7 linked regions of the Homo sapiens genome follow. The protein of the gene in region 4 purifies or fractionates together with the protein of the main gene of each other region. This does not show direct contact. Each region holds a gene or a part of one and is shown on either strand. Other genes may lie near its edges.

What was found.
Region 1: the proteins of PARP16 (region 4) and UBE4A purify together in Homo sapiens (affinity purification with mass spectrometry; 3 studies listed by BioGRID and IntAct, with this or other methods). This does not show direct contact.
Region 2: the proteins of PARP16 (region 4) and RAI14 purify together in Homo sapiens (affinity purification with mass spectrometry; 3 studies listed by BioGRID and IntAct, with this or other methods). This does not show direct contact.
Region 3: the proteins of PARP16 (region 4) and COG5 purify together in Homo sapiens (affinity purification with mass spectrometry; 3 studies listed by BioGRID and IntAct, with this or other methods). This does not show direct contact.
Region 5: the proteins of PARP16 (region 4) and NEDD1 purify together in Homo sapiens (affinity purification with mass spectrometry; 3 studies listed by BioGRID and IntAct, with this or other methods). This does not show direct contact.
Region 6: the proteins of PARP16 (region 4) and CRELD1 purify together in Homo sapiens (affinity purification with mass spectrometry, with the first as the bait; one large-scale study listed by BioGRID). This does not show direct contact.
Region 7: the proteins of PARP16 (region 4) and B3GALNT2 purify together in Homo sapiens (affinity purification with mass spectrometry; 3 studies listed by BioGRID and IntAct, with this or other methods). This does not show direct contact.

The regions. Positions count from the first base shown.
Region 1 is NC_000011.10:118,394,100-118,397,599, reverse strand, and holds part of UBE4A (ubiquitin conjugation factor E4 A), read right to left. Parts: intron 1,287-3,500; coding exon 1,160-1,286; 3' UTR 1-1,159.
Region 2 is NC_000005.10:34,830,220-34,833,112, reverse strand, and holds the end of RAI14 (ankycorbin), read right to left. Parts: intron 2,426-2,893; coding exon 2,348-2,425; 3' UTR 501-2,347; downstream 1-500. UniProt on the Homo sapiens protein: Plays a role in actin regulation at the ectoplasmic specialization, a type of cell junction specific to testis. Important for establishment of sperm polarity and normal spermatid adhesion.
Region 3 is NC_000007.14:107,280,921-107,284,420, forward strand, and holds part of COG5 (conserved oligomeric Golgi complex subunit 5), read right to left. Parts: intron 2,813-3,500; coding exon 2,651-2,812; intron 480-2,650; coding exon 380-479; intron 1-379.
Region 4 is NC_000015.10:65,262,884-65,266,383, forward strand, and holds part of PARP16 (protein mono-ADP-ribosyltransferase PARP16), read right to left. Parts: intron 438-3,500; coding exon 266-437; intron 1-265. UniProt on the Homo sapiens protein: Intracellular mono-ADP-ribosyltransferase that plays a role in different processes, such as protein translation and unfolded protein response (UPR), through the mono-ADP-ribosylation of proteins involved in those processes.
Region 5 is NC_000012.12:96,938,257-96,941,756, reverse strand, and holds part of NEDD1 (protein NEDD1), read right to left. Parts: intron 1,349-3,500; coding exon 1,220-1,348; intron 1-1,219. UniProt on the Homo sapiens protein: Required for mitosis progression. Promotes the nucleation of microtubules from the spindle.
Region 6 is NC_000003.12:9,932,603-9,936,633, forward strand, and holds the start of CRELD1 (protein disulfide isomerase CRELD1 isoform 2 precursor), read left to right. Parts: upstream 1-1,231; 5' UTR 1,232-1,318; intron 1,319-1,448; exon of another isoform or gene 1,449-1,817; 5' UTR 1,818-1,836; coding exon 1,837-2,010; intron 2,011-2,232; coding exon 2,233-2,315; intron 2,316-4,031. Other genes in the region: IL17RC (interleukin-17 receptor C), read left to right, coding at 6-101, 218-256, 351-991. UniProt on the Homo sapiens protein: Protein disulfide isomerase. Promotes the localization of acetylcholine receptors (AChRs) to the plasma membrane.
Region 7 is NC_000001.11:235,497,953-235,501,452, forward strand, and holds part of B3GALNT2 (UDP-GalNAc:beta-1,3-N-acetylgalactosaminyltransferase 2), read right to left. Parts: intron 1-3,500. UniProt on the Homo sapiens protein: Beta-1,3-N-acetylgalactosaminyltransferase that synthesizes a unique carbohydrate structure, GalNAc-beta-1-3GlcNAc, on N- and O-glycans. Has no galactose nor galactosaminyl transferase activity toward any acceptor substrate.

The sequences.
Region 1 (3,500 bases), on a different chromosome or scaffold from region 4:
TTATGAAAGTGGTGTCCACCTACCAACTACACAGGGCTAAGTGGATATTTAAAATGGCTGTGGACAAGGTTGTGCTCAACTTCCTACTTTGTTAATTGAAGACCTAAGGCTGTGTTAGAAGTAGCTCTTAGAAGTCAGGTCACAAGCTCAAACAAATATTAACTATATACATTTTATAATCTCAGAATTTTGTGAAGAATGAGTATGTTAGTAAACATGGCCACATACTGCATACATCTCACTATGGAAGAGAAAATATAAAGTGGTACTCAGTTTACACTAAACCAACAAAAAAGCACATGGGGTGTATGTGTATTTATATATCTCACACACTGAGATATACTGTTGATATTAGTGTCTTAAAATGACATTTTTCATGGATATGATACCCGTTGCCTAAATCTACTTAGGCCTAGTCCTTGTAGAAACAGATTTTCATAAGAGAATAAGGGCCCAACAGTCTCCTCACCCCCATCAATTGGTAGGATTGCCCTACCAATCCTCATTAAAAAGACTGTATAACAAAATTAAGAGCTATCAACAGAAGTTGCACAAGATTCCTTTAAATTCCTTTTTTAAAAAAAATTCTCGTCTATCATCTTATTCAGAAGTCTACACAAACTTAAAGGTATCTGCTTTTATGTGAAGTTACTCTGTAACACAGAAAAGGGGTTAAGTCTAGATCATGAGGACTAGTAAATACACAGGATAACAGGATTTTTCTGATAACATCAGCTGTCACTGAAATATGTGACATCACATATTTATAAAAGCAGCACTCACCAAAAATGTTTGAACAGTAATTGGAAGAGAAATAGCAGGGTGGCGGGAAGTTTTAGTAGTTGAAATAATATAATTTCATTTAGGAAAAGGAAGAAGAATATGAAGAGACAACAGAGGGTGAAAATTAGTGATGATTTCTAAACTTGGTGATGCTATAATAAGTATAATTTCCTGCAAGCCAGGGGAGCATTGTCAAGTTCTTAGGAATCTTAACTATCATAATTTCAGCAAGAGCAGTTCTCTAATTTAGTAAAAAAAAAAAAAAAAAAGAAAAAGAAAAGAAGAAAGAAAAGGAACAGAACCAGAAAGAGAGAAACCACAAACAATTGTTTATCTGCACTCTGGGGTTGGTTTTGGTTTGGTTAGTTCACAGTATCTATTCAAGTTGCTCCTTTTGTTGTTTCCTCTCTGCAAGCCACCGTTGGATTTTTTCTTTTAGTTCTGTGTTTGGCCGGATCTGGTCCATGGTGAGGGGACTACGGTTAAAGGGATCTGTTTGGTCACTGGGACAAAGAGAGAAAGGGAAATAGGGTTATTTCCATAAGTTCTAACATTCTAAGCCAAAAACAGAACACCTGGGCGTCGCATCTTAAGAATGAAGCCAGAGTGCATTATAACTTTGAGTCAAATGCCGAGTTGGGGTTAGAAAGAGTGAGAACAAGATGATTCAGGAGTTTTTGTAGCTACTTTGTCTATTTCTTTCTTTCTTTTTTTTTTTTTTTTGGAGACAGTCTTGCCCTGTCGCCCAGGCTGGTGCAGTGGCACCCAGGATGGAGTGCAGTGGCGTTATCTCTGCTCACTGCAACCTCTGCCTCCTGGGTGAAAGCTATTCTCTGACCTCAGCCTCCCAAGTAGCTGGGATTACAGGCCTGCACCATGACACTCAGCTAATTTTTGTATTTTCAGTAGAAACAGAGTTTCACCATGTTGGCCAGGCTGCTCTCAAACTCCTGGCCTCAAGTGATCCACCAGCCTTGGCCTCCCAAAGTGCGCTGGGATTACAGGCGTGAGCCACCCACCTGGCCTCTATTTCTTAATAAACTTTGTCTCAACACTGCTGTTCAGATGATATTTAATTACAGTGGCTTAAAAAATGCTATGCTTCTGTCACCTTTAGATTTCTCTAAGGCAGAGACACTATACATTCATGTCAGTGTAAAGAACTATTTGTAATTATAGTGACAGATTCTTAGAACAGTATGAGATGTTAAGGAATAAAGCCTTGTAGACCAACATTTGATTTAGTCAGCTGATTGTTATGCAAGTACATGCAGATTATGGTTTCTTGAAACATAAGAAGGTTTATGACAGATGTCAATCTTTTGGCTTCCCAGGCCACATTGGAAGAACTGTCTTGGCCTATACATAAGTTCTTGTAATGTTTTAAGAAACGTTATGAATTTTTGTTGGGCCACATTTCGAGCGATATAGTGAATGCTTAATACCAAATACCAAGAGGTAGAAAATTCTTTTTTTTTTTTTTTTCTGAGATGGAGTCTTGTTCTGTTGCCCTGGCTGGAGTTGCAGTGGCGTGATCTTGGCTGACTGCAACCTTTGCCTCCCAGGATCAAGGGATTCTCCTGCCTCAGCCTCCCGAGTAGCTGGGACTACAGGCACGTGCTATCATGCCCAGCTAATTTTTGTATTTTTAGTAGAGATGGGGTTTCACCATGTTGACCAGGCTGGTCTTAAACTCCTGACCTCAGGGTGATCCACCTGCCTTGGCCTCCCAAAGTGCTGGGATTACAGGCGTAAGCCACTGCACCTGGCCAAAAATTCATCTTTTTAATATTTAAAAATTTCCTTAACTTTGGGTCAAAGTATACCACATGTATCTATCTGTTTATTTAGAGACGGTGTCTTGCTCTGCTGCCCAGGCAGGAGTGCAGTGCTGCCATCATAACTCAGTGCAGCCTTGAATTCCTGTGCTCAAGCGATCTGCCTCAGCCTCCTGAGTAGCTAGGACTACAGGCATGTGCCATTATACTTGGCTAATTAAAAATAATTTTTTGTAGAGATATAACTTAATTTTTTTTTTTTTTTTGAGACGAGTCTCGCTCTGTCACCCAGACTGGAGTGCGGTGGTGTGATCTTGGCTCACTGCAACCTCTGCCTCCCAGGTTCCAGTGATTCTCCTGCCTCAGCCTCCCAAATAGCTGGGATTACAACAGGCATGTGTCACCACTCCCGGCTAATTTTTGTATTTTTAGTAGAGACGGGGTTTCACCATGTTGGCCAGGCTGGTCTCGAACTCCTGATCTCAAGTGATCCACCTGCTTCAGCCTCCCAAAGTGCTGGGATTACAGACGTGAGCCACTGTGCCTGGCTCGATATAACTTAATTTTAAATATGGAGAGGCCAAACAAGGTGGCTATGCCTGTAATCCCAGCACTTTGGGAGGCTGATGTGAGTGGACTGCTTGAGCCCAGGAGTTTGAGACTGGCCTGGGTAACATGGAGAGACCCCTTCTCTACAAAAAATACAAAAATAAATAAGCCAGGAACAGTGGTGCATGGCCTGTGGTCCCAGTTACTTGGTGAGGCTGAGATGGGAGGGTTGCTTGAGCCTGGGAGGGTGAGGCCACAGTAAGCTGAGATCATGCCACTGCACTCCAGCCTGGTGACAGAGCAAGACCCTGTCTCAAAAAAATAGATAAATAAATATATAAATAGGCAGAGTCTCTCAGTACTCATTTCTTTCTAATGCCGGACTAAAAA
Region 2 (2,893 bases), on a different chromosome or scaffold from region 4:
TTTCATGTAATTTTGATTATGATTATAACCTGCAACAATTTTAATTATGATTTTAACCTTGCCAGAATTCACCTGACAAGAGTTTTGTCAGGAATTAATTGAATTGTCTTTGTAATGGGGCAGGAAAATGTATCTGGATTTTTTTTTTACATATGTATGTATTACTTTTTCAAAAAAAGCAAGAAGCAAGAGGGAAAAAAAATCCAGCGGAGGCTTCCAAACAGTTAAACAGACTGCAGATTAAATGAGAGGCAATTGTGAATTAAAGGCAACTGTGATTCAACTGCCCCAAAGCGGCTGATACTCAGGGCAGAGCTCAGGGCGAATCCAAGAGCTGGGAAAAGGAAATGATGTGAGACTTTGTGTGAGACAGTGCGGACAACTCATACCAGCTGAGCATAGCACAGACTAGAAAACCTATTACACTGAAATGCTATTGAACTGATCTTCAGAAGCCACGCAGATATGCTTCTGAATACACCAAAAATCAACACCAGAAATGCAAAATGAAACAAGTTTATTTTCTCCAATAACTTCTGTAAATTACAAAGACAAAATACTAAAAACTACAGCATATAACTTTTCAATATTTAACCAGAGTACTCGTAATAAATATGCATCCGGAAACAAGATAAAAGGCTACACCTCGTCAGGCATCCTACAAAAATGTCTCAAGTTTTATATACTCTGCAGCATTTCTGTGCGGGGGCAGAAGGGGCTGTTGTGTATTTTCTGAAGTGCTGTGACAAAAGGTCCTTTCACATTTCTTTGGAGCATTTTTGAAATTGCTTAACTATAATTAAACAACTTAAGAAAAGTAACACCAAGCTTTAAAGCCATTTTTGCTTTGCTGTCATTGGTCCTTATCCAATACAGATCAACATATCATCCAGCACAGCCAAGCACCCACTGAGGCCAAGCAGCCTTGTGGGACATGGGCCCTGTCAGAGCAGGCCCTACTTTCAGTTAAATACTTTGGAGAGTCCAGGATTCTGTCTCTCTCCCTCAACAAGATTAATGCCATAAGGGAAGTTGCAAGCGTGTTAGAAACATTTTTAACCTGAAAGTAAAGTGAACAGAAATATTTTTTTTCCGAGACCTCTGCTATGCACCATAATATTACCATATCAGGGTTTTTAGCTTCAAAGTTGAAAAACAGATTGGTACTAACAGTCCTTCTAGAGATCATTTATGGGCGCTGGTAGAGTCAGGGCATTCAAAACATTCAACGGGTAAAAGGAGGATTTGCTAGATTCAGAAATGCGCTACAATTCTGAAGACACCATGGCTGAAAGTTCTAGGGGTGTTGGTGGCAGCTCATATTAGGTCTGGCATACATAACTACCTTTTGCTATAGCTGAAAACTTTAAGGAAAAAGTTATATTTTTAAAAAGTCTCAAGCATGGCTACCTAAAAAGTATTTTGTTAATATAATCTACTGTAATTTCACTTATTTAGGAGTTCAGATATGAAAACATCTTTATGAGCCAATAAAAATATTACAGAGAAAAAAATACTTCTACAAAAGTTGAGGTTAAGAACTATGAGGCATTTCTTTTGGCTGTAAACACACAGTTTACTGTCCCTTGTTGAAACACAAATGTTTGGATTTCCTGAGCTTCACAGATAACAGCAGGAGGCAAGTTTGCATAGAAAATTTGCAGTATGTCAACAATTTACTTAAAAAAAGAACTTTTAAGGACAACTTGCTTTTGTTTTTAAGTTTCATATTTTAGTTAATAGTGCTCATCAAACTGAATATTGATAAGCAGGGTGATGAGATATATAAGGCAGATGGGAAGAAAACATGGAATTAGAGTTTTTAAATCCACAGGATATCATGATGAAGGGTTTTAAGCAGATACTTCATAACTAGTGCCATACTAATTTAGTTAGAAATTAAATCATGTTTTGGAATTGAAAGCCAAAGGCAAAAAGAGCTCTCCTGTGCTGAATGGCACTGCCCGAGTACAGGAATGGAAGGAGCATTCACTGCAGGAGGCCTCAGCACATCACTCGGTGGTGATAAAGCCACTCAGCCAGTCAGGGATGGAGGAGGGGGCCCCCCTGCCAGCATCAGGACCAGACCTCTGGGCATGGCTGATCCCAGCTCTGGAATCTGAAGGGATGACAGGGACTTTCACCTCTGCTGGTTTGAAGTCTCTAAGCAGTTCTGAGGCGGGCAGTCTTCTCCTGGGAGAAGTCCTCAGAAACCTTTGGAAAGGGAAGAAGCTACGCTAGGCCACAGTGCATACCACGAATGAGAACAATGGCAGCGGCTGCCGACAACTCTGGATCTAACACAAAGACAGATGACAAGGGGCAGTGTCCTGCCAAGGAATCCACTTTACTTCTTTTGAGACTGGTTTTTACACATGGTAAGGATTTGCTTCAGTACTTTCTGGACATCTTCATCCATCTGGCCCTAGGATATTCAAACACAAGATACTCATTAGAACCTAAATTAAGCCATGGCACTTTCTTCTCTGGGGAATGAGATGGCTGACTGCAATGAAGACCTGGGCTAATTCCCACATCTTTCACAGGAATGTCAGCCCTATCATTTCCCAAATTTCTATGAGGAACTGAGTCAAAGAAAGGGCCCTGCCTTTATCCAGCTGGAAGATGAGGTGGCAGTGTCTACCAAAACCCTCAGCAAAAGCTATCTGGGGTCTCAGTTGCAAATGTGAGTCCAGCAGCCAGAACACCAAGCATCATAGAGCCAAGGCAGCACTGGTAACTAAGAAGATCAGCATTGCTGGAAAATAAAGCCCCCGTCTTCCCAGTGGAGGACCACATCATCCCTCATTCCTCAATAAATGATGGGAGGGTGGGGCATGGTGGCTCATGCGTGTAATCTCAGCACTTTGGGAGGCCGAAGCGGGTGGATTGC
Region 3 (3,500 bases), on a different chromosome or scaffold from region 4:
TGAATGATATATGGAGTTAGTGGTCACACAAAAGGGAAAACTTGATTGATCATGCATAATTATAATTTATGTAAATTACTAAAATATTTAAATATTTAAAAATATATAATTAGGCCATTAATTGGCACATGCGTTAAAAAAGGAAACCTTATAAAACTTGCTTGTCTTCTGAAAGTGTATTGACAATGTGTAGGAGGGCCATTTTTTTGTTAACAAATTTTTTTTCTGGTTTAAATTCATCAGGAAGTTACAAACTTTCACTACAGTAAAAATGGAAGTAAGTAAATAGTCAATTCAATATTTATGATTAGTCAAGTATTATATAGTTAGTAATTTTAAATAAAATCATTAAAGTTTACAGATAAAGGAAACCACTTACAAGCTGCTCTGATTTTACACTGTATAACTGGATGGTCTTTGCCACATTTTTTGACACAGCTAATGTGAGGTTTGTATCAACAGCAGCAACATTTAGTTCACTGGAGAAAATGAAAACAGTTTTTAAATATTAGCAACATCATTCATCAACAAAGTAAAGAGCAAGATAAAAACTCAAACCCAATAAGCAATGTGGTTATTCTTTTTATAGATTTCACTGCTTCCAAGAACTGGTTGCATTGTTTCATTTTACCCCCTAATTTCAGCACTTGGAAAAAGTACCTGGAGATGGCTTCCTTAATGACCAGTTTCTCATTAACAAAAGCATGTCATATGTGGGTTCAGTCTGTGATTAAAGGAGTAAATTGTGTACAGATTTTTAAAGTAGCACTCTTGCTAATACTGATAAAGTGCAAGCAGAGGCATTGCATATCACAGACATCTGCAAGGAAATGACAGCTCTTGAATGGAAATGATGACCTTAAAGGGACATAGGCTAAAAATATAAATTACACATGATATATAAAGATACTCAGCTTCTGTAGAAATTATGCCAATTCATGCTAGTTTCAATAGAGTAGCTTTTTAAATAATATAAAAGCATAACAGGACTATAATTACAAATTTTTAAAATTCGGATTCTTAAAGTATATTTTTGTCATGCTTCAACTTTAACATTGGATTAATTGGGGTATTTGATCTGACTGCCAAAAAAAAAAAAAAAAGTATTTTACGAAGACCATGGAAAGAACACTAGAAATTAAAAATAATATAGAAACCCATATACAGATGGAAAGCAAGAAAATTATTGTCCCTAAAGTAGTAGAGTAAATCTTACCAGATTCTCTTTTTAAAGAAGTTGAAAGTTTGAAACAATACTAGAGCATACTATGTGTAACAAAAATGCACTTTCATACAGTATTGAGACATAATTTTGTTAATGTTCACTTTTAAATTTTATTAAACACTAGCATAAGCATGATTCTTCCAGTTGTAGATTATATTTGATTATAGCATTGTCAAGTTGCACAGAGGAATGGGAGAGATTCCTCTTTAACATTTACATAAACAGGTCAAAGAGATCAAGTTACTAAGACCTATAGTCAGAAGGAAAGTCAAGGCAATTGTGGAGAGATTTAGGACCAAGATGCTGGGCAATCTAGACAATTTGTAGGTACGTTTGCAGCAAAAGATATGCTTATGTATATTATTATACATGTGGCTTTTTATTTTTATTTTTTGAGACAGGGTTTCGCTCTGTCAGCCAGGCTGGAGTGCAGTGGCGTGATGTCGGCTCACTGCAGCCTTCGCCTCCCGGATTCAAGCGATTCTGATGCCTCAGCCTCCCGAGTAGCTGGGGTTACAAGCGTGCACCACCAGGCCCAGCTAATTTTTGTATTTTTAGTAGAGATGGCGTTTCACCAGGATGGTCTGGAACTCCTGACCTCAGGTGATCCACCCACCTCCGCCTCCCAAAGTGCTGGGATTACAGGCGTGAGCCACCATGCCTGGCCACCTGTGGCTTTTTAGTCTTACTCTTCCACGCCTCAGAATCACCATCTTCAAATCTTTAAAAGAATTTAGACCTCAGTCTCATACTATTTTTTATTCCTTAAAACGTCCATCTCAAATGTACAGATCTACTATTATGACAACTTGTTAGTCATGACAGAAACTGAGATAATTTCAACTGCAAATTGGTCTGGATAACTTTTAAATAAGTGTCTAAAGCCAACAGTATATAATTACATTGTCTGCAGGCATTCAGGTGGCACCTCTGCTAGGATATCTTCCCTTTTTAGTCTTAAAAGCTGTCACATTCACTTAAAAAGCTTAAAATAGCGAACACAAGCTAATCAAAGTTATATTCCTATTTCTGCCATGAAGCACGTTCTGGAGTTTAGGATAAAAAAAAGTTAACCTGTATGTTTTAGTTTCTCAATTTATAAAATCGTTTATTATATTTGATTTCTTGTGTAACGTAAGAAATTTACTATGATACAAAGAGCTAGGTTTACTTTGCATCCTTGGCAAGATATAGAATAATTATAATAGACTGTTTTTAGACTATATTTAAGGTATTTAAATTATTTATTAATTGGAATCTCAAGTACTTACTATGTGTGCACTCATTTACTATAAAATTCTTAATTTAATTGTGGGCCTAATTACTTGAATAATTTGAAAATAAATTAAAAAGGTACTGCTATCATATATCACTAACAAATATGGCAGTCATCTTATGGCAAGCCACTATATAAAAAATACATACCTTGCTATAGTTTTAATAATACCATCAAGTTCATCAGAGGAAGGAGGATTACGACCACCCGGGGGAAAAACCAAGTTGATAGGATCGAAGAGTCGAGATAAGGATTTTGATAGATAAGCAGCCTCATAGGGTTGTAGTGAGTCTTTCAAAGCCTTTTCTGGACTGTGGAAACAAAATTTTTTAAAAACTAACTTAAATTGCACAGAGCTAAATGCTATTGTATCAGGCTGTAAATACCTTTTTAAAAAATGCACCTCCCATAAAAATGTAACTCTATATTAAGAAAAAGAAAATAATTTGTTTCACAACGTACATATTTACCAATATATTTCATAATTAAACATTCAGGACCATAGTAACCTTTTTTTTTTTGAGACGTAGTCTCACTCTGTTGTCCTGGCTGGAGTGCAACGGCGCAATCTTGGCTCACTGCAACCTCTACCTCCTGGGTTCAAGCGATTCTCCTGCCTCAGCCTCCCAAGTAGCTGGGATTACAGCTGCCCGCCACCATGCCCAGCTAATTGTTGTATTTTTAGTAGAGACAGGGTTTTGCCATGTTGGCCAGGATGGTCTCAAACTCCTGACTCCAGTGATCCACCCGCTTCGGCCTCACAAAGTGCTGGGATTACACGTGTGAGCAACCGTGCCCGGCCTATATTAACATTTTAATCTCTACGTAAGTCCCCACTATAAATGCACAATAATATGCACCAATACCTACTGTATTATCTGTTTCCTTAAACTAAAAGAATAACAGTAAAATCCTATTAATGCTAATGGGGGCTATGCCTTTACTTGTAAATCATACCTATAGAGTTATCGAAGCATATGGAAGAAAGACCAGCCTGCA
Region 4 (3,500 bases):
TACTTCCTCTGAGCTGCCTCTGTGGGCCTCGTCAGCCTCCTTACCTGGCACCCCCTACCTACCCCCTTGTAGTGAATGGTCTCCATTGAGTGTTCAATCTCTAAGAAGACTGCTCGCTCCTTGGGCAGGACCCTGTCCGGCACTGCCCTGGATCCAGCCCAACCCTTGGGCATGCAATGGGTGCTCTACCCAACAGCTGGGCCAGCAAGAGCCTGTACACCCAACAGAGGCCTGTAGCCCAGGTCTGGACCAAGTGCTCACTCACCCTTCTTCTTGGTTTGGCACTTGACGTCCGGATGGTCAATGACCTCACACACGGCCACACAGCTAAGGATGGGGCCGAGGAGGCTGTGCTGCCACCCATGGCCATGGGGGCTGTATATGAGGGCCAGGCTCAAGTCACTGGTGAGGTAGGTCCCCTCTCCGAACAAGGATGTCTGCAACAGCAAGGCCAATGGAAAAGAAACACAGATGGTTGAATGTACAGTTGGCACGGCAAGACGACACAGGTCTCTCTTCAAGAGTTGTAAACACAAAATGTACAACCCCCGCTTTTTGCCCCAGCAAGACACAGGATCAAATAATCCTGTGATATCATCACAGGGTTATTACTAAACACATTCCTGCCTGACAACAGTTTAACTGATTGTGGATTTGGCCATCTGGCCTGGCAAACTAGCAGTTCCTTGTGGTCAAGGTTGAGTGAGAAAAACATAGGTATAAGCATCCAAACCAACCTCGGTTTGAATCCTCCAGCAAGTGGCAAGTTATATAAACTCTCTGTGTCTCAGTTTCTAGATCTACAAAATAATGTTACTAGTAGCTCCTTTACAAGGTTGCCAGTGAGGATTAAATGAGGCAATATACATACATAAAAGAGTGGGACATCTGGCACATCTAAATAAATGAGGGGCCAGTACTCCATTGCAGGCCTTTATGTTCTAGTATATAAAGTAATTCCTGTTACATGAATGCAGTAGGCATGGTTACTCTGATGGGCTTCAAATGCAAAGTCACACCCTTAGGTACAGGGAAGGGGTCCCACCTGAGAAGGGAGGTAATCTGAGTCATTACTTGGAAAAGAAATGAGTCTCTCACAAATAAATAAAAACATAAAAATTAAAAATAATAAATAAATTAGAAATTAGTCTCTTAGACCAGAAACTATAACAAAATGAGGGAGGCCGACATGCGGGGCAAGGTACGTTTTACTCTTTGTATTGGGGTTGACCAAGAAAACATCTAAAAATCTAGGCAGCATCTCCCTGGTGGTGCCCTCCATAAGGAAGCATGCCAGGTGAAGGACCTGTAAGTTGAGGCTACAGCAGGCATAGTGAACACATCTTTGCCCATGGTAGATGACCAATAACAAACCACAATTGCCAGCACAGTAATATCAAGCATGGCACTTATTCCTAATGATCCAGAATCCTCAACTTAACATTCCAGGTAGCTGCGACCAATGGATGGACATTGACGCTCAGGTTGAAATTCAACTGCTATCCCTGAGCCACACTATCAGTATCTCAAGATAAGTGGACTTGAATAGCTCACTGAAGAATATCTTATGCTCTGGAATTGAGAAATGTCCTTTTCAGTAGCACCAGGCTTCCAAAATCCTAAATCTGTTAAGTGAAGCTTAGGGGAAATGAAACAGACCTTTGCTTGGCCTTTGGGAAGCTCTTTGCCAAGTTAGGCAGGGTCTCCATCTCTCAAAAGCTGACACAGACCTTCTCCAATGACACTGGATGCCCTCTGATCTGACCCCACATCCATTCTCTGCTTATGCCATCATGTGTTCACCCTTCCTTAGACTTGAGAACCCCATGCAAGGCTGCCATGAGCAGTGGTGTACAAGAGTGGGAAGCTCAGTGTATCTCTGCCATGAAAACAGTATCAGTATCAACTGGCAGATGGACTCCCTCAAGCAAGCCCTTCACTGAAAACCCAGGCAGAGGGGCCATAGGAGGATTGATGTGCTTTACCAAAGGATTTTTGTAAGATGCCTCTAAGCAGCAAACTCCCTGGGGCACTAAAATGAAGGTTTAGTGTACAAGAGTATAATCTGCAGGCAACTTCTCCAGGCCAGCACCAGTGTAAAGGGGAAGCCCCCTGAATTCCAGTAGCCTGGACATAATGGTAAGCTGAGAGCCAGTGGTGGACTGAGAGCCAGTGTAAACAAGCCCGTCATCCTTAGCAAAACCCAACGACATTAACCAGATACACCAGGGAAATATCTCCAGTCTCAGGGCTGCAGCAGCCACAACTGAGCCCATGGCTCATGGAGCCAGCTCCTCACAGACAAGGCAGATACTGCCATGACTGGGGGAAAGGCCTGCAGCTCCTCCAACTACCCTAGATGCCCCTCCATCAGCATATAAAAGCAGCTACCTCTTCCTTGGTACTTAGTACACAAAGAGCCCTTTGCATACATGAACTGTTTTAATTCTCTGACATATAAGAAGGAGGGTAATGGTGTCCTTTTTTACAGATGAAGAACCTGAGGCTCAGAGAGTTTAATTTACTCAGGGCCATAGAGCTGCTAAGTAAGTCTCTGTAGCTCCAGGGTCTGTCTGTAATGCTCCTCCTATACCTGAGGGGTAAAATAAATGCCTGCAGAGAAGTGGATAGATGACTGTTTTGACTCATAAAAATGGGACAAAAGCAGCTCAAGAGGGGAGGGAAAGGACCTCTCCTCGGTGCATCTTGGCATATCCCTCAGTTTCTCCAAGGGCTGATTTCCTGGAGTGTGGTCCCCAAGGAAAGTGCTTCTCAAACTTCAATATGCATACAGATCACCTGGGGACCTTGTTAAAGTGTGGATTCCGATCAGGTGGTCTGCGCCTGAGATTCGCATTTCCAGCGAGCTACCAGGTGATGCAGACGCTGCTGGTCCAGGGAACGCACAGTGGAGCTAGGGTTGGCTACATAGTGGGATCACCTGGAGAGCTTTTAAAGCAACTGATGCCTGTGCTCCACTCGGAGATTCTCATTTAATTGGTCTGGGATGCAGCCAGGCATCTGGGATTTTTTATTATTTATTTATTTTATTTTTTAATTTTTGAGATGGAGTCTCACTCTGTCACCTAGGCTGGAGTGCAATGGCACGATCTCAGCTCACTGCCACCTCTGCCTCCCAGGTTCAAGCAATTCTCCTGCCTCAGCCTCCCGAGTAGCTGGGATTACAGGCACCCACCACCATGCCCGGCTAATTTTTGTATTTTTAGTATGGATGGGGTTTCACCACGTTGGCCAGGCTGGTCTGGAACTCCCTCAGCCTCCCAAAGTCCTGGGATTACAGGCGTGAGCCACTGCGCCAGGCCTGGCATCTGGGATTTTTAAAAGCTCCCCGAGTGATTCTAAATATGCAGCCAAGGTCGGGAACTATCTTTAAATCGACGCTTTTCAAACTATAACCAGTGCAGGAATCACCTAGAGATCTTGTTAAAATGCAGGTTCTGATTCAGAAGGTCTAGAGTGTGCCCAAGATTTTGCATTTT
Region 5 (3,500 bases), on a different chromosome or scaffold from region 4:
AAGAAAAAAGTAATTTATTCATTTGTCTTAAAAACTATTAAAGAGAATTTAATTTATAACTCAAACACTTCCAAAAAGCCCCTTTGTACATTCTTCAATGCAAAAGTTCCTCCAGAGGAGTCTCACTGGCCAAAACTCGCAATTCAGCACTAATCCCAGAAACCTTTCTCAACTCCAGCACTAGTCACTTTTCTCTCCACCTACATCCGTCCCTCTGTTTACCCTTTACAATGTAGTTTGATGTAGTTCGACTTCTCTTCATCCTGAAAGAAAAGAATCCTTCCTCTTTCAGTTTGACTTAGCAATTTAAATAGAAATTTGCAGGCCAGGGTAAGGCAGAAGATACTCAATAATTCTGTACCACCACGTATGTATTTATTCCTTCTGACTATAAAATTGTAGAACATTTGGAAAAGAGACAATTTTAAAGTAAAAAATGAAATTGTATAAGATAATGAGTGGATGAAACAACTTCGAGATCCTGCTGTTGACATGGTACACTTATAATAATAAATACACAAATCTTTGTGGGCTTCTCTGAGTATTTTCTGAGATAAATTTGTAGAAATGTAAATACAAGGCCAAAAAGTATGAATATATTAACTCTGTCAAATTACCCTCTAGAAATGTATCCATGTTATTAATATTGCTGTTAGCAATGAGGTAACTCCATTCCACTAAGAAAAACATTATGGATGTTAGTACCAAAAAGACACACCTAAACAATGTACTTAGTTCAGACACTATGAAGAATAACAAATAATGCTTCTATTTATCAAGCTGGCAAATTTGCTTTTTATTATGCCAACTTTTTTATGGGGTGGTGGGAGGTGTACACCTATACACACACAATTTTTTAAATTAGGAAGACTTTTTTGCATACCAAAACATCTAAAATTTTAGGAACATTAATTTAGAAGTAGATACAAGGGACAGATTGCCTATGAAGGTAAAAACTTCCTTCAAGAAACTTTTGTGGAAATTAAAATGCTAACTTGAGAGCTATTTGCATAATTCCCATGTGAAAATTACCAGCATATATTTTACAATGATAACATTTGAAATATCAGGGCAAAGAAAAAGATACCACCCCAGGGATGGAGAAAATTAGCAAACTGATCCGTGAATAGAGTTGGACTGAAGCTATTATTCACATCTTTTAGCCAGAATAAAAATATTAACTACCAGCAAGAGAACAGGATCCTCTGAACAGACTTACCATCTCTGATAGGTGAGAACATGTCACCTAAACTACTTTTCCCAGTATCATCAAAGCTGGAGAAATCCTGATTTTTTCCACTGTCTGTTTCCTTAGATAAAGTGTCTGTGTTTATGCTTCGAGGCAAACCTTATAGGAATTAGATATAAAAATCAATGTTATTACATCTAAATAAATTTTATCATAAGCTAGGTTGTAAAAATTAATGTATCACTCATATTGTTGGTAATATTACAACTATGAGCATAAGGAGAATAAAACAGAATATGACAAGAGCTAAAGTTAATCAGGATTTTCATGGAACAATAAAACAGAATATGACAAGAGCTAAAGTTAACCAGGATTTTCATGGAACAAAAGGTTCCTCAAAAGAAAACAGCTTATTTGTTCATACAGTAATACCTTATTTTAGCCATTTTGTTGGAATTTTTCTAAAATAATTTATATACTTTGCTGCTCTCTTAAAGTACACTGAACACAACTTACTTTTGCTATTGACTGACTCATGATCATCTACAAATGTGATTTTTTTTTAGTCTGTAAGGCATATAGAGCGATGCCTAACATACAGCAGGATTCAATTAATGTTACTTTTCTTCCCTGACTTGCAGTGAAGGGGTTTTCTGTCTTTTCTTTCACTAACAGTGGGAGCTTAACATTGCCCTCAGCATTACAGATCTCAAATGACTTCACTAACCTCCATAGTTTCAAAGAGGAAGCAAACCAGAACACCAAACTCATAAAGAATAGTAAGGTAGACAACAATAAAGAGACGGCAGCAGTTTATTTTTTCTGGCAGTGTATAAACACATGGCTTTAGAGTAGGGACCTTTTAAGAGGAGCTCAGCAGGCTCAGAAGCTTCTGTTTCATTACTGGAGTAACGACAGTTTTAGAGGTTCAAAAATTTTGATTAAAGTCTGCCATCAGGATTGGTAGCACATTACTGTATTACATTTTAAAAAGTGCTTTATTTGGCATCTCAGGCCCAAATGAAAAACTGAAAAGTCTGAGATGAAAACAAAGAACAGCCTGCATATCCAAAAATGCCCAAGACTGGCGAATAAAATAAACTTTTCTAATAACACCTGCTATAAAGTTAAAATATTACCAAATCATTTGTACTATTGTTGAAGAGTGTCTATAGCAAGAGTTCAGTTGTTACAAAGAAGAAATTTCCTCTCCTTTTTTCTAGGTCCTTAACATGTTTGAATGCATAACTCAGCCTCTGAAACTTTAGGAAACAGAAGTTTGGTATCATTTGAAAACAGCGCTAAAGTCTTATTCTTTTCTTCTTAAATGGTGATTTCCTTCTAAAACTAAGTACCAATAACAAGTTTAGAGAAGTTCTTTGAAATAACTGAATCAGGACAACTTCAATAGAAGCAACAGAATTTTTTTCTGAACTTTAATTTTATACAAAGCTTAAAATAATAATAGTGATGATCATGATGACCACAATGATAGTATCAACACCATAGTGTACTGAGTGCCTACCATGTGCCAGGTACTTCCAATACATTTTATCTGATTTTCACAATAACCCTAACAGTTAAATGTCATCTTAAATGTGTACAGGAAAAAAATGAGACCCAGAAAGGTTAAGAGAATTGCCTAAAAGCATCCTGGCCGGAAGTGACAGATCTGAGACTGAGTCTACTATTCTCAATGTTTCAGAGGCAAAGAAAAATGTGTGTGTGTGTGAGAGAGAGAGAGAGAATGAGAGACAGAGAGAGGAAGAGAAAGAGAATGATGAAGCAAATGTGGCAAAATTTATAAAGTGCATCTGCCAAAGGGTAATGCTCAGGAGTTATCTGTACTATTCTTAAAACTTTTCTGTAAGATGACAATCATTTCAAAATACAATTAATACACAAACATTGTTAATTTTGTGGGGGCAGAGCACTCACTTTGCCAGAAATGTTGGGAATCTACCAAGAGTTATCGTTAATCCATGACCCTGAAAGATCCAAGCCTTTGATTTGCAAATTAATGCTGTCTTTGTTAAACAAGAGCCTTCTTACTATAAAACTAAATGAATAATGGAGAGACTTCAGAGAGTTTACAGTGAATGAGAGAATCTTTATTTTGTTTAATTTTTGAAAATTTTGAAAAAAGATAATTTTCATAATATAGTTAATTCAACATGTTGGCAGACATTACTCAAAGTTATATTTCAAAAATAATTTCTTCCTTAAGTAGATATCAGTTGTCTTTGTCTCCAGGAGTTCCTAAATAAGAACTTAATTATTTTCCTAATATATAATGGCTCTTATATAAGGA
Region 6 (4,031 bases), on a different chromosome or scaffold from region 4:
CCCAGACATCCACAAGCGCTGGGCCCTCGTGTGGCTGGCCTGCCTACTCTTTGCCGCTGCGCTTTCCCTCATCCTCCTTCTCAAAAAGGATCACGCGAAAGGTGAGCGCTTCCCGGCTCCCCATTCCCCTGGGGGAGGACCAGAGTGGCTGTGGGAGTTCTCCGAGGGAAAGCGGCGGCCGAGCTCACTGGCTGCCTCCGCCCCTCTCCCCTAACAGGGTGGCTGAGGCTCTTGAAACAGGACGTCCGCTCGGGGGGTGAGTGGGAGCAAGCGCTGGGCGGAGGGCCGCCCCCGGGGAGCCAGGCCTGTGCCAGCTCACCTCTTCCCTCCCCATCTGTTTTCTCCGGCAGCGGCCGCCAGGGGCCGCGCGGCTCTGCTCCTCTACTCAGCCGATGACTCGGGTTTCGAGCGCCTGGTGGGCGCCCTGGCGTCGGCCCTGTGCCAGCTGCCGCTGCGCGTGGCCGTAGACCTGTGGAGCCGTCGTGAACTGAGCGCGCAGGGGCCCGTGGCTTGGTTTCACGCGCAGCGGCGCCAGACCCTGCAGGAGGGCGGCGTGGTGGTCTTGCTCTTCTCTCCCGGTGCGGTGGCGCTGTGCAGCGAGTGGCTACAGGATGGGGTGTCCGGGCCCGGGGCGCACGGCCCGCACGACGCCTTCCGCGCCTCGCTCAGCTGCGTGCTGCCCGACTTCTTGCAGGGCCGGGCGCCCGGCAGCTACGTGGGGGCCTGCTTCGACAGGCTGCTCCACCCGGACGCCGTACCCGCCCTTTTCCGCACCGTGCCCGTCTTCACACTGCCCTCCCAACTGCCAGACTTCCTGGGGGCCCTGCAGCAGCCTCGCGCCCCGCGTTCCGGGCGGCTCCAAGAGAGAGCGGAGCAAGTGTCCCGGGCCCTTCAGCCAGCCCTGGATAGCTACTTCCATCCCCCGGGGACTCCCGCGCCGGGACGCGGGGTGGGACCAGGCGCGGGACCTGGGGCGGGGGACGGGACTTAAATAAAGGCAGACGCTGTTTTTCTACCCATGTGGCCCACACGCGTCTCCGTTTCAGTGGCGGGGCTGGCAAACGTCATTCCCTAGCCCCGCGGCCCTTTAAAGCCCGGACAGGTGCAGCTCGGTGCCGCCTCTGGTTGGCTGGCGTGGGGTGACGTAATGGCACATGGCCCGTCGCCATTGGCTGGGCGGCAAGCTCCGCCCCCTGGACTGCGGCGCGGGTGGGGGTTGTGCGTTTTACGCAGGCTGTGGCAGCGACGCGGTGAGGAGACGGCCCACGGCGCCCGCGGGCTGGGGCGGTCGCTTCTTCCTTCTCCGTGGCCTACGAGGGTCTGGATCCTTCTCTGCCGGCTCGTGGGCCGTGCCTTTGCCCTTCTGCGAGGCCCTGAATCTGATCCCTTCCCTTCATATCCGGATCCGGGCTCCTCCCTCCAAGCCCGGGGTTCCGGACACCTCCCCCAAGACAACCCCTCTGGCCTCCTCTCCTTCAGTACTTGGAATCTGATCTCTTCTCCCTAATTCTGCGGATCCGGCCCCTAATATTCTTTATCAGACCCTCAGACAAGAGGCTGACTTCTGCCCCCTTGTCAAGGAGCGAGGCCACTTTCCTCTCCACCCCATGCTAGCGAGGATAACTTATTTCTCTTCTGGAATTGCATCTTATGCGCCTTTCCCCACCCATCCCCACAGCCCCTGCAATACCCAGTTTGGCCTCTTTTGCTTGTAATAACGCAGATCCCAGCGCCACGGCACCTTAGAACAGACCTTTTTCTTTCTCGCGTGGGGCCTGACTCCTTCAGTGAAGCCTCTCCACGCCCTCTATCTGCAGGTCCCCAGCCTGGGTAAAGATGGCCCCATGGCCCCCGAAGGGCCTAGTCCCAGCTATGCTCTGGGGCCTCAGCCTCTTCCTCAACCTCCCAGGACCTATCTGGCTCCAGCCCTCTCCACCTCCCCAGTCTTCTCCCCCGCCTCAGCCCCATCCGTGTCATACCTGCCGGGGACTGGTTGACAGCTTTAACAAGGTGGGTGCACCGGCAGCCTCGTTAGAGGGGAACACAGCGATTTAGAGTGGGGAACTCTGGGATGCAAATCTGCGTGGATTTAAGTTTCATCTTGGTCTCTTACTAGTTGTATGGCCCTAGGCAGGTTGCCTTTCTGTGCCTCAGTTTCCTAGTCAGTAGAACAGTGAAGTGCTAGCATGTGCCAGGCACTGTACTTAGCTATTACTAATTTTCTGTTTCCAGGGCCTGGAGAGAACCATCCGGGACAACTTTGGAGGTGGAAACACTGCCTGGGAGGAAGAGAATTTGTCCAAATACAAAGACAGGTAAGGGGCTGCTGGGGGAAGGGGTGTATATTCCCCTCCCCGCCAAATCTCTGCTCTGCTGGTGTAGGGCTAGGAACTCTTGGGGAGCACTTATTCATTCAACAAATAGCACTGAACATCTATAGTATAGCAGTAAACAAGGCAAGCAAAATGCCCCCTTCCTGGAGCTCACATTCTAGTAGAGAAGACAAGCAGTGAATGAGTAAGTGAATAATATTATGTCAGATGAAGAACAAACAGTGAAGCACGGTAGACTGCAGGACGGTGGGAGGCAAGGTGTTCAAGGTTTGGCATTTGAACAGAGAGACAGGAAGTGAAGAAGCGAGCTATGTGACAGGGAGGGAATTGGGCAGAGGATGGGACTGAGCTTGGTGTATTTGAGAAGTGGCTGGAGTGGAGTGAGCCAAGGGGAGAGTGCTAGAAGGTGAAGGCAAAGGCTTAAGCCTCGAGGGCTACAGAAAAGAGTTTAGATTTTTTTTGGAGTGTAATGGGAAGCTCTTGGAAGGCTATGAGCAGAAAAAGTGATACTGTCTTCTCTACACCTTTAAAGATTACTCACACTGCTATGTAGCAAACGGATTGTAAGGGGCAAGGGCGGAGGAAGCAGGGAGACCAGTTTGGGAGGCAAGTGCATCATCTAGGTACAAAGGCAACACAAGCTAGTGTGGTATCTAGTGGAGGACATGATGAAGAGGTCACAGTCTGGGTATATTTTGCAGAGAGAACAATAGGACCTGGTGATAGATTCATTATGGGTATAGAGAAACAGTAGAATAAAAGATGCTTACTAGATTTTGGGCCTGAGCAACTGGGTGAGTAGTGCAGCTGTTTTCTAAGATGGTGAGATGCGAAACCGAGAAGGTTTAGGGGAGGGGTGGGATGTGGTGTTCTTTGAACGTATTGGGCTGAAATGTCCATTAGACATCCAGGTAGACTCCATACAAATCTGGAATTCAGAAAAGAGTAGGAATTGGAAACAGGAATTTGAGAGTTGTCATTATATAGTCAGTATGTAAAGAAAGCCATGGGAAGGATACAGAAAGCCATTATATAGTCAATATATGTAATACAGAAAGCCATTTATATAGTCAGTATGTAAAGAAAGGCATGGGAAGGATACAGAAAGGCGAGCCCTGAGCCCTCCAGCTTTTCAAAGTCAGATGGAAGAGGAGTCAGCAAAGGCTCAGAGTTAGACCTGGTTGTCGGTTCTTAACCTCTCAGAGCCACAGTTTCTTCACCTGTAAAATGGGGATATTAATACCTGGTTTGCCTATTTCATAGAAGTGTGGAAAAGGCTTAACTGGGATGCCCACTAGAAATAAAGGTTTTGTTATTATGTAACATTGGTCATTTTCTCTTTTCCTTCGCCGGGCCTGAGTTTCCTCATTCAGGAATGAGGGGATTGGCTAAGACAACCCCAGAGGCACTTCCAGCTTTGTAATGGCTCCTGCGTTGCTTGCTTTTTTAAATCACCTCCTATATGCCAGGCACTGTGCCAGACCCTTTAAATACAGGATATAAGACATCAAATATTTATATATGTGTGTATATATATGTGTGTGTGTATATATATATGTGTGTGTATATATATGTGCATATATGTCTGCGTATATATATGTGCGTATATATATGCGTATATATATATATATATGTATATATTTGTGGTAAAATACACATAAAAAATTTCCCATTAAAGACATTTAATAATATTTACAA
Region 7 (3,500 bases), on a different chromosome or scaffold from region 4:
ATGTCTAAGCTGCTTCTGTTCAACTGCTTTACTTTACATGCATTTCTCTTTTTCTTGCAGAGGGAAAGTAACACGGCATATCGTGGTCTTTTAGAGAACTACTTCAAGATATATTGAAGTCAAATGTCAGAAAAATAGGTTTTTTAACCACATACCATTAATGTAAATTAGTCCAATAGACTCCTGAGTACTGTGTTACACAGTACAAAACCCAAAGCAGATGCATAATAAAATACCTATGTAAGAATGTTGCTCAAATTTCTAGCTCCCTTTACCAATCTGGCTCTAAACTCTTATCACCTTTTATGTTACAAGAACAGGGTACCTAGTTGACTCCAGTGTCTAGAAACAGAGGGAAAAAAAGAAAGTGGTAAGAAGTAAACATGATACAGAAGGACATAAAGATAATTCAGAAAAGAAAAAAGGCAAATAGCAAGCCTATGAAAACATGTTCAACTTCAATAAGAATCAAGTTTGAATTAGAGCAATGAGACACCAGTTTTCTCCTACATTCAAACTGACAAATGTCTTCTTAAATGATTGTAACTAAATGATGGTACTTCAAGGAAATGTTGTTAGTGATTTCAACAAAGTGGCTACTCTCCGCCGGGCACGGTGGCTCATGCCTATAATCCCAGCTTCAATTTTGGGAGGCCGAGGAGGGCAGATCACAAGGTCAGAAGTTCGAGACCAGCCTGGCCAATATGGTGAAACCTCATCTCTATTAAAAATACAACAAAAATTAGCTAGGTGTGGTGGTGCATGCCTGTAATCCCAGCTACTCGGGAGGCTGAGTCAGGAGACTTGCTTGAACCTGGGAGGCAGAGGTTGCAGTCAGCCAAGATCCCGCCACTGCTCTCCAGTCTGGGTGACAGAGCTAGACTCCTTCTCAAAAAAAAAAAAAAAAAAAAAAAAAAAAAAAAGGCTACTCTTTTTCATTGCGGGAAGGAATGTAATTTGGTACAGTCTTCTGCAGGGCAATTTGGCAATGTGTCAAATAATTTAGAATGGTGTAACTTTGTCCAGCAATTCTAAGAACTCATTCTAAAGAAATAATCAGTGATACACTCAGAAGATCTTTATTAATCATAGTGTCACCTATTAATAGCGAAAAACTGCAAGCTACATAAACACATAAAGGACTCATTAAATAAATTATGGTGTAGCTATATGACAGAATACTATGCAGCCATTAAAATTACATGTTAATCATATCATTAAACATTATTCTATTAATACATCATATTAAGATAAACAGGCGATAGGAACTATGTAGATACTAGACGGTTCTGTTTATATAAAGTACAAAAGTAGCCAAATTTCTGCCACTGGTTACTATCCCTGGTAGTGACAAAACAGAGCATGAAGGGAACTTCTGAAGCACTGATAGTTTTCTTTTTTTAAATCTGGGTGGTGATTAGTTGGGTGTGTTCAATTTGTGAAAATACATCAAACTGCGCCAGTTTTATTCTCTTGATTTATTCACTCAAATGACAGAGCATCTCCTATGCTCATTGTTCTAGATGGCACAGATACAGCAGTAAACAAAATCTTCATAATGTCAGGACTAAATCACAATCCCAAGCAAGCTCCCTGAGGGCAACGTAAGGGCCAAGGGAAAGTTTTCCCTCTGAAGGTTCGGTGAAAATCACTGACAAGAGATGGACAGGAGAAAAGGCATATAAATTTATTTGATCAGTAAAGATACAGGAGAAAGTGCCCATTTCTGTGCTTAGGTTTAACAAAGTATAGATAGCTATGTGGAATTAAGATTGGACAGAAAGGGTAGGATCTAATGTTAACAGATGGAGTTGGAAAACCCAGCAAGGCCTGTCTAGATTCTTCTTGTCCTCTCTGAGTATACATTCTTTCCTACTGGGTATGGGATAGGACCCTCTCTGGTATGAGGTTCTTATGACCTTTAATAAAAGAAGGTAAGTTAGGTAATTTTTATATAGAAAGGAGGTGGTGGGGGCTAGTTAGAGTAATATGTTTAGGTTTTATGGCTGGCTTTGGGGAAGAGGGATTTTAGTTTCTACAGCTAGCCTCAGGTGAGAATGCAAGGCCAGAGAGAGGACAGCAGCAGCAGGTCAGAGACAGCTGCTTCTGAGGCCTTATTTTGGGGTATTGTTTTCTTCTGAGACCCTACAGTAAGAACTATTTCTTTTCTTAATATGTAATATATCCTGAGAGTCTGGCAACCTGCTCAACCCTGCACTGTGAGTGGACATCCAAAGGTATATTAAAGTCTAAGGGAGGGCCTGGCGCAGTGGCTCATGCCTGTAATCCTAGCACTTTGGGAGGCCGAGGTGAATGAATCGCTTGAGGTCAGGAGTTCGAGACCAGCCTGGCCAACATGGCAAAACGCAGTCTCTACTAATAATACAAAAATTAGCTGGGTGTGGTGGCACACACATGTAACAGAGGCTGAGGCAGGAGAATGGCTTCAACCCGGAGGCAGAGGTTGCAGTTAGTCAAGATGGTGCCACTGCACTCCAGCCTGGGCGACAGAGTGAAACTGTGCCTCAAAATAATAATCAAAAAAGTCTAAAGAAGGTTGACATCAAAATTGATTGCTCAAAATAAGCCCAAGAGTCTTAAAAATCACACCAAAATTCCACTCTGATATGCATGCTCTTGGAAGAGTCACAAATAGATACAAATCTTGAAAATGAAGAAAACATGTGAGCCTGTCACAGATCTAATGATAAAGACAATCATCATACACACTACCAAAGACACCTCCCAAAACACCACACTAGCACAGGCATCAGCGGCCACCAGACTACCACTCCTCTCTCAAACTCATGGAGTGTTTACTATGAAACAGGCACTGTTGCGGGTGTTTCATTAATTGAATCTTCACAATAAGTCTATGAGATCATCATCTTATAAATAAGGAAACTGAAGCACAGAGACACAATTAGCATATAGGGATAATTTTGGAAGAACTCACCCCAGGCAAAATTACAAAGCAAGCTCAATTTGTTTTCTGACCTTCTACTTGCTCTACATCTGTTTCCATTAGATACTGTGAGCACCTTGGGAGAAGGGACTAGGCATCCAGCACAGAATCTAACACTCAAGTACTTGTTGAGTGAATATGCTCCTTTGTTTTGGTTTCTTTCTTTCCAGATACCCTAGAAAGCGAAGCCTTCTTTTGTCACATCATTTTTCTAAATTAACCGTTAAATAATTCCTACTTAAGGCATTACCCAAAACGAGCATTTTGTAATCAAGATATCCTATGTTTAGATTCCTTAGTCCGATGGTTATCTCCACCTGCATTTTCCTCTGTCACCCTCAGGTGTACTGGATTTCACTTCCTCTTTACCAGTTGCTTTCCCTGACTGGTTTAAGGGAACCTATCACATTAAAAAAGTTGCTGACTCTGGTACTAAGGTGACTCACTTACTTCATTCTGGTCCCTGCTCAACTGTTACCTCTTCAGAATGGAATGGACTTCCCTGACCTATTTAAAACCATCTCTTTAATCTCTT